Homo sapiens: one gene and its partners. The protein of the gene in region 1 purifies or fractionates together with the protein of each later gene. This does not show direct contact. Each region holds a gene or a part of one and is shown in the gene's direction. Other genes may lie near its edges. The genes, in order: DEUP1, GOLGA3 and SPAG5.

Evidence for each region.
Region 2: the proteins of DEUP1 (region 1) and GOLGA3 purify together in Homo sapiens (affinity purification with mass spectrometry; 3 studies listed by BioGRID and IntAct, with this or other methods). This does not show direct contact.
Region 3: the proteins of DEUP1 (region 1) and SPAG5 purify together in Homo sapiens (affinity purification with mass spectrometry; 3 studies listed by BioGRID and IntAct, with this or other methods). This does not show direct contact.

Annotation. Positions count from the first base shown.
Region 1 is NC_000011.10:93,328,885-93,332,631, forward strand, and holds the start of DEUP1 (deuterosome assembly protein 1), read left to right. Parts: upstream 1-1,857; 5' UTR 1,858-1,888; intron 1,889-3,331; 5' UTR 3,332-3,375; coding exon 3,376-3,404; intron 3,405-3,747. UniProt on the Homo sapiens protein: Key structural component of the deuterosome, a structure that promotes de novo centriole amplification in multiciliated cells.
Region 2 is NC_000012.12:132,827,022-132,830,768, reverse strand, and holds the start of GOLGA3 (golgin subfamily A member 3), read left to right. Parts: upstream 1-1,899; 5' UTR 1,900-1,966; intron 1,967-2,379; exon of another isoform or gene 2,380-2,753; intron 2,754-2,866; exon of another isoform or gene 2,867-2,961; intron 2,962-3,055; exon of another isoform or gene 3,056-3,162; intron 3,163-3,747. UniProt on the Homo sapiens protein: Golgi auto-antigen; probably involved in maintaining Golgi structure.
Region 3 is NC_000017.11:28,585,395-28,589,141, reverse strand, and holds part of SPAG5 (sperm-associated antigen 5), read left to right. Parts: intron 1-2,642; coding exon 2,643-2,717; intron 2,718-2,959; coding exon 2,960-3,052; intron 3,053-3,143; coding exon 3,144-3,278; intron 3,279-3,488; coding exon 3,489-3,608; intron 3,609-3,730; coding exon 3,731-3,747. UniProt on the Homo sapiens protein: Essential component of the mitotic spindle required for normal chromosome segregation and progression into anaphase. Required for chromosome alignment, normal timing of sister chromatid segregation, and maintenance of spindle pole architecture.

The DNA of each region.
Region 1 (3,747 bases):
ACAAAAAATTAGCCGGGCGTGGTGGCGGGTGCCTGTAGTCCCAGCTACTCGGGAGGCTGAGGCAGAAGAATGGCGTGAACCCAGGAGGCGGAGCTTGCAGTGAGCCGAGATGGCACCACTGCACTCCAGCCTGGGCAACAGAGCGAGACTCCGTCTCAAAAAAAAAAAAAAAAAGGAAAACATTAAACCTACAGTTTGCTAAGGAAGATCCTGACTGCTAAAGAAACCGACTCAACCTTAATGTTTGGAGAACACTGGATTTGGAGTAAGATGATCTAGGTTTACATCTTGATGTATCATCCATTTCAAGTGCAAATCCATGGACAAATCCATGGACATATCCTTCATTCTCTCTAAGCCTGGGTTTCCTAATCTTCTGAAAGAAGCTATTAATAACACCTGATACACTTGCTGAGTGTATTTCTGAGCCTCTAAAGAAATAATGAACATGGAAGCACTTAGCAATGTTACATAGCCTTAGTGATCTTGGGCATCCTGAGATTTCATTAAATTTCGTTCCTAGTTCCATTTTCCCTTCCTTGGGTTAGAAAAAATACATTGACCCATTCAATTCAGATAAGAATAAAGAATATACGCGTTTTCAGAATAATGAAAAGTTTCAAGTTAAGATAACACAGTCACTCTCTTCATGCAAACATGAGAGCTATGAAACACCTGTTAGAACTGATATCCCAGGTGACCGTATACAATTCATCTATGAAGCTCAATTTGTCAAGAAACAGCATAATGGTTTTATAAAATTCAGATGGGACCTGGACGGAGGGATGTGGGTGCGCATTAAATTCATAGAATATTAAAGTAGCAAATTAGCGTTAAAGTGATGAAAGTAAAGTGCAAATAAAAGACTTTAAGAATTAAGTAGTCGACTCCATGTGTTAGGAAGGAATTATTTGGTTAAAATAAATCAAATACAAAATTCAAGTGCTTAAAACAAATCACTCAAGATGTCAGTTGGAAAACATATATTCTTTCCTATTATTTCCTCTATGAAATGGAGACAGAAAATCTGTCATCAATGACTCTTGGAATTTGGTGGAAAAAGGAAAGAATCTGGAATCAGTCCCGTTGAGTTTCGTTCCAGCTTCTCCTCTTAGAAGCTATTCTCTTCTCCCTGAAGGGAGGCAACACTGTCCGTTCGCCTGACTGGCAGTGTTTTAAGGACCCATCGCGCTTGACGGGAAAGTCAGGTACAAGCTGATGCTGTTATCACCACAGGAACCAGGGGCTGAGCGGTGAAATCCAGCTCCTCCCAGCTGGAAGACGCTAGGGTGAACGGAGATAAAAGCAGTTCTCTTTACCCGAAGTTTATTTCTTTTTCATGCCACTTCAAATTTGGGTAAGAGGAAAGAGGGCCAAGGGGATTTAAGGAACCTGGATGATGAACTCCCCAGCGGTTTACAGTTCCTTCGTGATCTATTTGGTTCATTCATTCAACAAGTATTTCCGGGCTGCAGCTTGGGTGCCCAGCCTTGGGGTAGGCAGTGGGACTACAAAGAGGAAAGGACCCAGAATAGAGGGGGCACTGGACGTATAACTGCGGGACAGCGAGGTCGCGCTCGCGCGGGGTGAGGTTGGAGGCAGCCGAGGAGCCGCACAGGGCAGCGCCTGCCGCCGCCGCCGCGCCCATCCCCCACTCCGACGGCCACGAGTTCGGGCCGCGACGTCCCCATGGCAACACGCGGCGGCGCCGCGCGCGGGGAGGGAGAGGCCCAACTGCCTCGTTGGTCGCGCGGCGGGAGGGCCCAGGCGGCGGGAGCGCGGCGGCGGGTGGCGGGGCCCCTTGGGGCGGGCCTGGCGGGGCGGGAGGTGACATACGCGGTCCTGCGCCCTCGCCTCAGACCTCTCGGGCGAGCGCGGCGCAGCGCAGGTAATGGCTCCTGGCCTTCCCGGCCCCGCCTCGCCCCTGACCCTCACCCAAAGGCCAGGCTGCGCGGGTCCTCGAGCGGGACAGGGGAACCCCAAAAGGGCGGCCGCTCTGCGGGAGGCTGGGCTTGAACCGAGCGCGGGTCCTGGAGGGGCGCGTGGCGCGGGGACAGAGGCTGGGAGGGGAGGCCCGCGCTTGCAAATCCAGAGCAGAGCTGCGCCCTAAGTTAGAAGGACTGGGCTTCAGTTGTGTGGCCTTGGGCAAGCCACTTAACTTGTCTGTGCCTCAGTTTCCCTGACGTTTAAGTGAGATATTTGAGAATCTACAAAACCATTTATTGGTCTGCTCCTTCTGGTCAAGTTTTCCTTCACCATCCCTGCTCCTCTCCGCTCTGTCTCTCTTAATTCCAGGGTCTCTCTTAAAACTCTTCGATTTGGAAGTGATGTGAGCTCGAATCTTCCTCCTCTTTCTACCTCCTTGAATGTTCTTTAATTGACTTTTATTCAGTGATTCGGAGGAGTTGAAGTCCTTTTCAATACTTTCTCCAGTTATCGTCATAGATTATTTTTTAACTAAAATTGTGTTACTGAGAAAAACTTTTTTTTTTTTTTTACTTTAGGCAAATGCTAACATCCCTATTTTGTCAAGAGGTGAGCCAGTGCCCATAGAGCCATTGAAGAATTTCAAGATTTCTTTTTAAAGGCATTCTTAGCCTTTTTGTCCTAAATCTCATAGTTATAGTCATCCTAACAAAACCCAGATAGGGCCAAAGAAAGAATGTACTCAAATAAAGGCACACCTTTAGGGGAACCACAAGAATAGAAAGTTTGAGAACATCTGGCTAGAATTTCTCTTTTAATGGGAATTCTGTTTTACTCATTCTCATGTACTGAGCCGTTTGCGAACAACGTAGTACAAGCTATTATTCAATAAGTAGTAAATGGATGCTCATTTTAGTCCGTACCACATATTTCAATAAATCACTAAGTCAATATCGTAAATGCATAGGGGTCGCTAAACAAAAAACTCAAGTTTGGGAGGCCGAGGTGGGTGGATCACGAGGTCAGGAGTTCGAGACCAGCCTGATCAACATGCGAAACCCCGTCCCTACTAAAAATACAAAAATTAGCCGGGCATGGTGGCGATTGCCTGTCCCAGCTACTCAGGAGGCTGAGGTGGGAGAATCGCTAGAACCTGGGAGGCAGAGGTTGCAGTGAGCTGAGATCGTGCCTCTGCACTCCAGCCTGGGCCACAGAGCTAGACTCCGTCTCAAAAAACAAACAAAAAACCAAAACAGAAAACTCAGGTTTCTATATTTTGTAGGATCAAGAGCTACTACACAGAAAAACTCATACTAAATGGTTTTTGCCAGTAGCAAAATTTTCATGTTTTATAGGTTAAAGAATATAAACATTTTAGGAACTTGTATCATTTTCCTCCTAACAGATTAAAAATCAAGAAATATAAACCAGATGTAGCAGTTTCTTGACATGGAGAACCAAGCCCATAATACGATGGGGTAAGTGCTGAGAAATTTCTGTTTAATAAGTATGTGCTTAACTGTGCCAAAAACTTCCTGAGAACACATGAATTTTGAAATTTACTATTAATAGAAGGATATGCCAATTATTTTTGGTGAGGCGGATGAGAGGAAATATGAAGTGACTGTAATTAAGGATTATAATGCGAGACTTTCTGATTTTGACACTACAGATCTGCACTCAAAAATCACTGTTTTCCAACTTTTAGTGACTGTCCAATATCTAAGGGTGGTGGATGCGGAGGCAGGCCTCGTGTGCTCTTCTGTTACCACAATGCAACCTTTCTTCGCCAGCTTGCTCCTTTTTTGCCGCATTGAGTAT
Region 2 (3,747 bases), on another chromosome or scaffold:
TTTACTGTCAAGTTTTGAGAGTTCTTTATATATTCTAGCTACTAGTCCTTCAACAAACGTGGTTTGAAAATATTTTCTCACAGTCTGTAACTCATCTTTTCATCCTCTTAATGTGGTCTTTCTCACAAGGTTGGTTTGTTTGTTTTGAGATGGAGTCTCGCTCTGTCGCCCAGGCTGGAGTGCAGTGGCACGATCTCAGCTCACTGCAACCTCTGCCTCCCAGGTTCAAGTGATCCCCCTGCCTCAGCCTCCCGAGTAGTTGGGACTACAGGCACACACCACCACGCCCAGCTAATTTTTTTGTATTTTTCATAGAGACAGGGTTCACCATGTTGGCCAGGATAGTCTTGATCTCTTGACCTTGTGATCCACCTGCCTCGGCCTCTCAAGGTGCTGGAATTACAGGCGTGAGACACTGTGCCCGGCTTTTTTTTTTTTTTTTGAGACGGAGTCTTGCTCTGTTGCCCAGGCTGGTGGCACGATCTCCGCTCACTGCAACCTCTCCGCCTCCTGGATTCAAGCGATTCTCCTCCAGCCTCCTGAGTAGCTGGGATTACAGGCACATGCCACCATGCCCGGCTAATTATTATATTTTTAGTAGAGATGGGTTTCACCATTTGGCCTGGCTGGTCTCAAACTCCTGACCTCAGGTAATCCGCCCACCTTGGCCTCCCAAAGTGTTGGGATTACAGGCGTGAGCCACCGCATCCGGTGAAAAGTTTCTAATTTTTTCATGAAGTTTACTCTATCAACTTCTTTTGTGAATTGTGTTTTTTTGGTCAGATCTAAGAACTCTTCCCCAAGCTCTAGATGTGAGAAATTCTGTTTTCTTCTAAAAGTTGTATATTTTACGCCTCAGTCTGATCATTTTGTGTTAGAATTTGCATTTGCAGATAACATGATGGCCCATGTAAAAAATACAAGGATTTTACAACAACAACCGCAAAACACCAAATGAACCCTCAAACTAATGAGTTCAGCGAGGTCTCAGGATAAGAAAATCAACATAGAATTCATCACATTTGTGTAGACCAACAGTGAACACGTGGAAAACGTCAAAAACGCAGTGTTACAGTTGTTTGATGTGAAATACTATAAACTTAAAAGGTGCAGAATCTGTATGCTGAAATTACAAAATGCTGGTGGAAGAAATCAAAAGACCGAAATAAATGGAGGGGCCACCAGGGACGCAGATGAAGGACCGAGTCAGCGATGCCCGTGCTCCCCAAACGATCTGCAGCAGTTCCCATCAAAATCCCAGAAAACTTCGTAGACTGAAGCGTATTCCAAAATCCGCAGAGATGAGCGCAACATCACAGAGGACCCCGAGGCGCCCTCCAGGCCATTTCCTTCCTGACAGCTGGAAGAGCGGCCTGGCGGATGAGGGAAGGTGGAAAGCCGTTCCCCAGCGGCCAGCGGCCCGCGCCGTCCAGCTTTGCCCTTTTTAAAGGGGAAGCAAATAGGGTCCAAAGCAGCGTCGCCTTTGATCTGGCACCTGAAGCGCGAAGGGCGCCGGCCGGGTGGAGGTGCGGGGTTGGGGCGGGGACCCGACTAGGGCGGGCGGGGAAGTCACGCCCACACCGAGCTCGGCCGCGCCCATGCCGAGCCCCGGCCACGCCACTTCCGCCGGAAGCTCGGTTCAGCTTCCTGAAAGAGTTGGTCCTGCAGTTCCGGAAGTTGCGTTTCTACTAGGGAAAGGTCCGCAAACTCTTAAGGTCACTTTCTGAAGGCGGCCTCATCACAGTCGGAGGTGAGCTCGATCCGGACCCTGTGGGCAGAGGGTCCCCGGCCCTAGGGTGGCCACTTGAAGAAGAGGAGGACGTTCTCTGTTCCGGAACGAAAGTAGCGCGTGCAGGCTGTTTCCGGGGACCCGAGGCCGATGCACCGCTCGCCCCGCCCCTCTCACGGCCACGTCTCCGCCGGAGCATCCGGGCCGGGCGGCCTCCGGGGCTGCCAGAGCAGCAGGGTGAGGGGCTCGGAGGCCGCGGCGCCTCGGGGCTCGGGCTCCCGCTCCCGCTCCCGCTCCCGCAGTGCATGGGCGGGGGAGGCTCGAGGGGCGGCGGCGGGGCCTGGGCGCGTCCCTGCAGCGTGGCGGGACGGCCCCGTTCCAGTCACCCCCGCCTCGCTGCGGTGGCCTCGGGCCTGGGCGCCCGCCTTCAGCTGCGGCGGAGCTGGCTCTGTAAATGCCGGTGCCCGCGAGCCCTCCTGAATGCTTGTCTGCGCCCGACGAGCGCGGCCTGTCCCGAAGCTGTCCACTGCCACCACTCGGGCAGTGCTTGCTTTAGCCTGGCCCTTTGCAGCTGAAAGGCGTGACATGGTGTCGGGTGGTTCGTGGGAAGTCGGGGTTTCAGGAGTCCGTGTACTTCCTTGTTTGTCTTTGTCGCTGGCCGACTTGTCTTCATTCCAGGTGGCCAGAGCGAGTGGGGCCGGGCGTTGTCACGGGTATGAACCCGACGAATGTCAGTCGTGTGGCGGGTCCTGGGTATTGTGGGTCTGGGTCACTGCCCCCGCGGAGCCCACCTAGGACAGGGACACCCAGGGTCGCCAGCGAGAGGGTACCGGGCGGTGGTTGGGTGGGGTCCGCTACTCTAAGTGGGAGCCTGGGGGGCGGGCGACTTCCGTGCTAAGGCCTCTATGACGAGAAGCAAGCCAGGCAAAATTGTGAGAAAAGCGCGCCTCAGGCAGAAAGTTTGAAGACCCTGAGGGCGGAGGATGTGGCCACAGTGTAATGGCAAAGGGGGAAAGCGATGGCGGTAAGGATGTTGGTGTAGGCAGGTGCTGGATTCTTAAGAGGTTGGAGTTTATTGTCACTGGGCCAGTGTAAGCCATTTACAGATGACTCATGGATTTTTTTTTTTTTTTTAAGAGACTGGGTGTGTTGCTGTATTGCCCAGGCTGGTGTGGAACTCCTGGCCTCAAGCGATCCTCCCACCCCAGCCTCCCAAAGTGCTGGTGTTACAGGTGTGAGCAGCCACACCCGTCGTCGTGGATTATTTTGAACTGTCTTTTAAACGACATCAACATAGCGCTTTATAACCCTTTAATATCTTTTCAGGCAGTATACCTTAAATGGCAAGAAGGAAATAAATCATCTGACATCACTCAGATTGAAGAGGAGCTTTTTTTCCCCCGATTGCCTTAAGAAGTAGCATACTTTCCCAAGTGAGAATGCCTTCAGTTGGCTTTTAGCGATTTTGACAAGCAACAACTAAAGGGAAAATCGTGATAATTACTGTCATTTTATTGAGGACACGGGACAGACTCTGTGCCTTGTTATATTTAATCCTGGCAAAATTTTGCGTTCATTTTCTCATTGTTTTACTGGTGAGGAAACAGGCTAAATGTGATTAAGAAATCTTTAGCCCAGGCTCTCACAGGTAAGTGGTGGAGGGTCGGGAGCTGAGGCCGGAGTCCTGACTTCCAAGCCTGCCCTTCACGTCTCTGCAGTGACATGAGGCTTGCTTGCTTTTGGTTTTCACTTTGTGTATAGATCTGTGTTTACTTTTGGATACTAGTGTGGCCTCCACCAGGTACTCTTTTCCTGAGGAAATCGTGTTTGGTTTTTGGCTGTGCTCTGTTGTTTCTAATACCCGATAGGAACAGGTGAAACGAGGTGGTGTAGATGGAGCCGTGAATGTTTGTATACAGAATTCAGGTGTGGGGGAAGCAGAAAGTCCTGTAGGTGCCTGAGGTGGTGGTTTCTCAGTATGAAGTCCCTTGATGTTACCCAGCTGTGAACCTAGGGTT
Region 3 (3,747 bases), on another chromosome or scaffold:
GGAGGATAGAGTAAGACTCTGTCTCAAAAAAAAAAAAAATTATTTTAAATTGTCAATATTGGTAATATGCTGGACATTACAGCCTTTGCAACAATTTAAACTTAAGGGTACTTAGTTTTTGCAGGAAATATTAGAGGAAAGTAGCTAAAAGACCACTGTTGGCCCAATGTGGTGGCTCACGCTTATAATCCCAGCACTTTGGGAGGCTGAGGCCGGCAGATCACTTGAGGCCAGGAGTTTGAGACCAGCCTGGCTAACATAGTGAAACCCCATCTCTATTAAAAATACAAAAGTTAGCTGGGTATGGTAGTGCACTCCTGTAATCCCAGCTACTTGGGTGGCTGAGGCATGAGAATTGCTTGAACCTAGGAGGTAGAGGTTGCAGTGAGCCGAGATCACCCAGTGTACTCTAGCCTGGGCAACAGAGTGAGGCTGTCTCAAACAACAACAACAACAATGTTCTAGAGGATTGTATTACAACACAGGCCTAAGAAGGAAGGGAATGGTGGCAGGTGAAGGAATTGATAGCACCTCACCATTGTGGCTGTTGAGATAATAGGTGGCTGCTGCTAAGAAGAGATGGTCCCCAAATGTGCAGAGACCTCCTTTGAGTTGAAAATATCCTCAAAGTAATGACCTTACCATTTGCCAAAAATCCTGGAAACCATAAGCTCCATGTTCCTCCAGCTGTTCAATTTCCCTCCTGTTTTCTTATCTTTGTGTCCTTTCCTCTTGTTCTTGACCTTGTTTCCCATCCCTGAATCTGCCATGCATCCTCTTCCCCTGAAGGTTGCCAGGTCCCTTTGTAGGCCACTGAAGCAGAACCAAAGAGGGGAAATGACATACCTTTAGCCATTCTCCATCAGCATGCCATGTCCTTGCTGCCTGGCTGCCTCCTTCACATTAATCTCATCACCTGCCTGACTGTCCAGCTGAGCACGATGTGAGCCCTATCCAAGCTCATGTGCTACTCTGTGCCTTATTTCACGATGCAGCAGTGAATGATAACTGCTTTGCTGGGGAAGGGAGCCATGAACTCCAAGAAATCAGCAGTGCTGCTCCAGTAGTAACTTTTCCCCCAGATGATGGCTGCCTTGCCTCAGTAATGAAGACTCCCACTTTTCTCTTAGAACTTGTCTTCTGGGGTTCTACTGCCTTTGAGATCATACCTACTTACTCTATGCATACTATGAGTTTTATCTATCTGACCCAGGATAATGAGCAGACAATTAAGAAAGTAAAAATGATGAATAAATACCTAAGAAGGTTAGCATTATTGGCAATAAAAAATGCAAATTGAACAGTGAGATGCCATTTTCTTGTGACTCAATAGCAAAGAATAAAATAGGTAATGCTGGTAAGCATACTCTATTTATCTGCAGGATATAAATTGGTTCATCCTTTTTTTTTTTTTTTTTTTTTTTGAGACGAGGTCTCACTCTGTTACCCACACTGGAGTGCAGTGGCACGAACATGGCTCACTGCAGCCTCTACCTCCTGGGCTCAAGGGATCCTCCCACCTCAATCCAGCTGAGTAGCTGGGAATATAGGCATGTGCCACCATGCCTGGCTAATGAAAAAAAATTTTTTTTTTTTGAGACGGAGTTTTACTCTTGTTGCCCAGGCTGGGGTGCAGTGGCGTAATCTCGGCTCACTGCAACCTTGCCTCCCGGTTTCAAGTGATTCTCCTGCCTCAGCCTCCGGAGTAGCTGGGATTACAGGCACGTGCCACCACGCCTGGCTAATTTTGTAGTTTTAGTAGACATGGGGTTTCTCCATGTTGGTCAGGCTGGTCTCGAACTCCCGACCTCAGGTGATCCGCCCGCCTTGACCTCCCAAAGTGCTGGGATTACAGGTGTGCGCCACCGCGCCCAGCCTTTTTTTTTTTTTTTTAGAGATGGGGTTTCACTGTGTTGCCCAGGCTGGTCTTGAACTCCCGGACCCAAGTGATCCTCCTGCCTCAGCCTCTGAAGGTGCTGGGATTACAGGCATGAGTCACTGTGCCTGGCTAAACAAAGAAATTTTTTACCTACCTGTGGATTTTTCTTTCTGACTTGGCTTCATTGAATTGAGTACTTTGCTTCTGCTTTTAATAGGAAAGGTGGCTGGGTGTGGCAGGAGCACTTTGGAAGTCCGAGGCAGGAGGACTGTTTGAGGCCAGGAGTTTGAGACCAGCCAGGGCAACATAGCAAGACCTCATCTCTACAGAAAATAAAAAATAAATAAAATAGGAAAGGCTCCTATAACTCACTGGGTGGGAGGAAGAATGAGGTGCTGGTGGTACATGTTGCCTACTCAAAAGGAACAACTTGGCTGGTCATGGTGGCTCACCCCTGTAATCCCAGCACTTTGGGAGGCCGAGTCGGTGGATCACTTGAGGCCAGGAGTTCAAGACCAGCCTGGCCAACATGGTGAAACCCCGACTCTACTAAAAATATACAAATTAGCTGGGTGTGGTAGTGCATGCCTGTAATCCCAGCTACTTGGGAGGCTGAGGCATGAGAATTGCTTGAACCTGGGAGGTGGAGGTTGCAGTGAGCTGAGATTGTGCCACTGCACTCCAGTCTGGATGATAGAGCAAGACTCTGTCTCAAAAACAAACAAACAAACAAAACAAGGAACAACTCTGTTTTTCTGGCTAGATAACTAATAAACTTCAGCATCTTAAGGAGAGCCATGAGATGGGACAGGCCCTACAGCAGGCCAGAAATGTCATGGTAAGTGATGATTGACCTTACACCACCACTGGGTCTCCTGTGAAGATGAAGAATGGAGAATCCTGGGTGGTTAGTAGATGGTGATACTAAGTCGTGGTGGTGAAGGGAGGTTTCCAAACATTTGTAAAGTACATCTCCTTATGCGGAGCTTGGAATTGGGGTTAGCGGTTTTCCTCCCCAGTGCCCCTGTTTCCTGCTTAGTGACTTTATTTGATCTCACCTACCCATTTTTTTCTCTACAGCAATCATGGGTGCTTATCTCTAAAGAGCTGATATCCTTGCTTCACCTATCCCTGTTGCATTTAGAAGAAGATAAGACTACTGTGAGTCAGGAGGTAAGCAGCCTGAAGATGGAGGTGGAGGCCTGTGGTGGGACTAAAAGCCATAAAGAGGAACCAGACACATTAACTGATTCTTACCATATAGTCTCGGCGTGCAGAAACATTGGTCTGTTGCTGTTTTGATTTGCTGAAGAAATTGAGGGCAAAGCTCCAGAGCCTCAAAGCAGAAAGGGAGGAGGCAAGGCACAGAGAGGAAATGGCTCTCAGAGGCAAGGATGCGGTAAGGTGACAGGCATTTGTTCTTGGATGTGGGAGGTTTCCACCTCAAGGTTCCTGCAGGAACACAAATGCACTTTAGACACAGATGGGTGGCCTAAGAACTGCCTGCCCTGGGCAGTAAAGAACTGATCTATTGAGGTGTCATGGTTACATCTTTTTGTGCTGGCTCCCCTGTTGCCCACTGTGGCCTTGCAACCACTTCCCTCAATAGGCAGAGATAGTGTTGGAGGCTTTCTGTGCACACGCCAGCCAGCGCATCAGCCAGCTGGAACAGGACCTAGCATCCATGCGGGAATTCAGAGGCCTTCTGAAGGATGCCCAGACCCAACTGGTAATTTAAGGGCATTTTCTTTCCTGGGGTCTGTGCTGACAGACTGGGAGGGTAGTTGCATACTCCCACTTTGCTGTATCCAAAGGGAAGGGGTTCCCGCCTAGGCAATCTTTCTTTTGTAGGTAGGGCTTCATGCCAA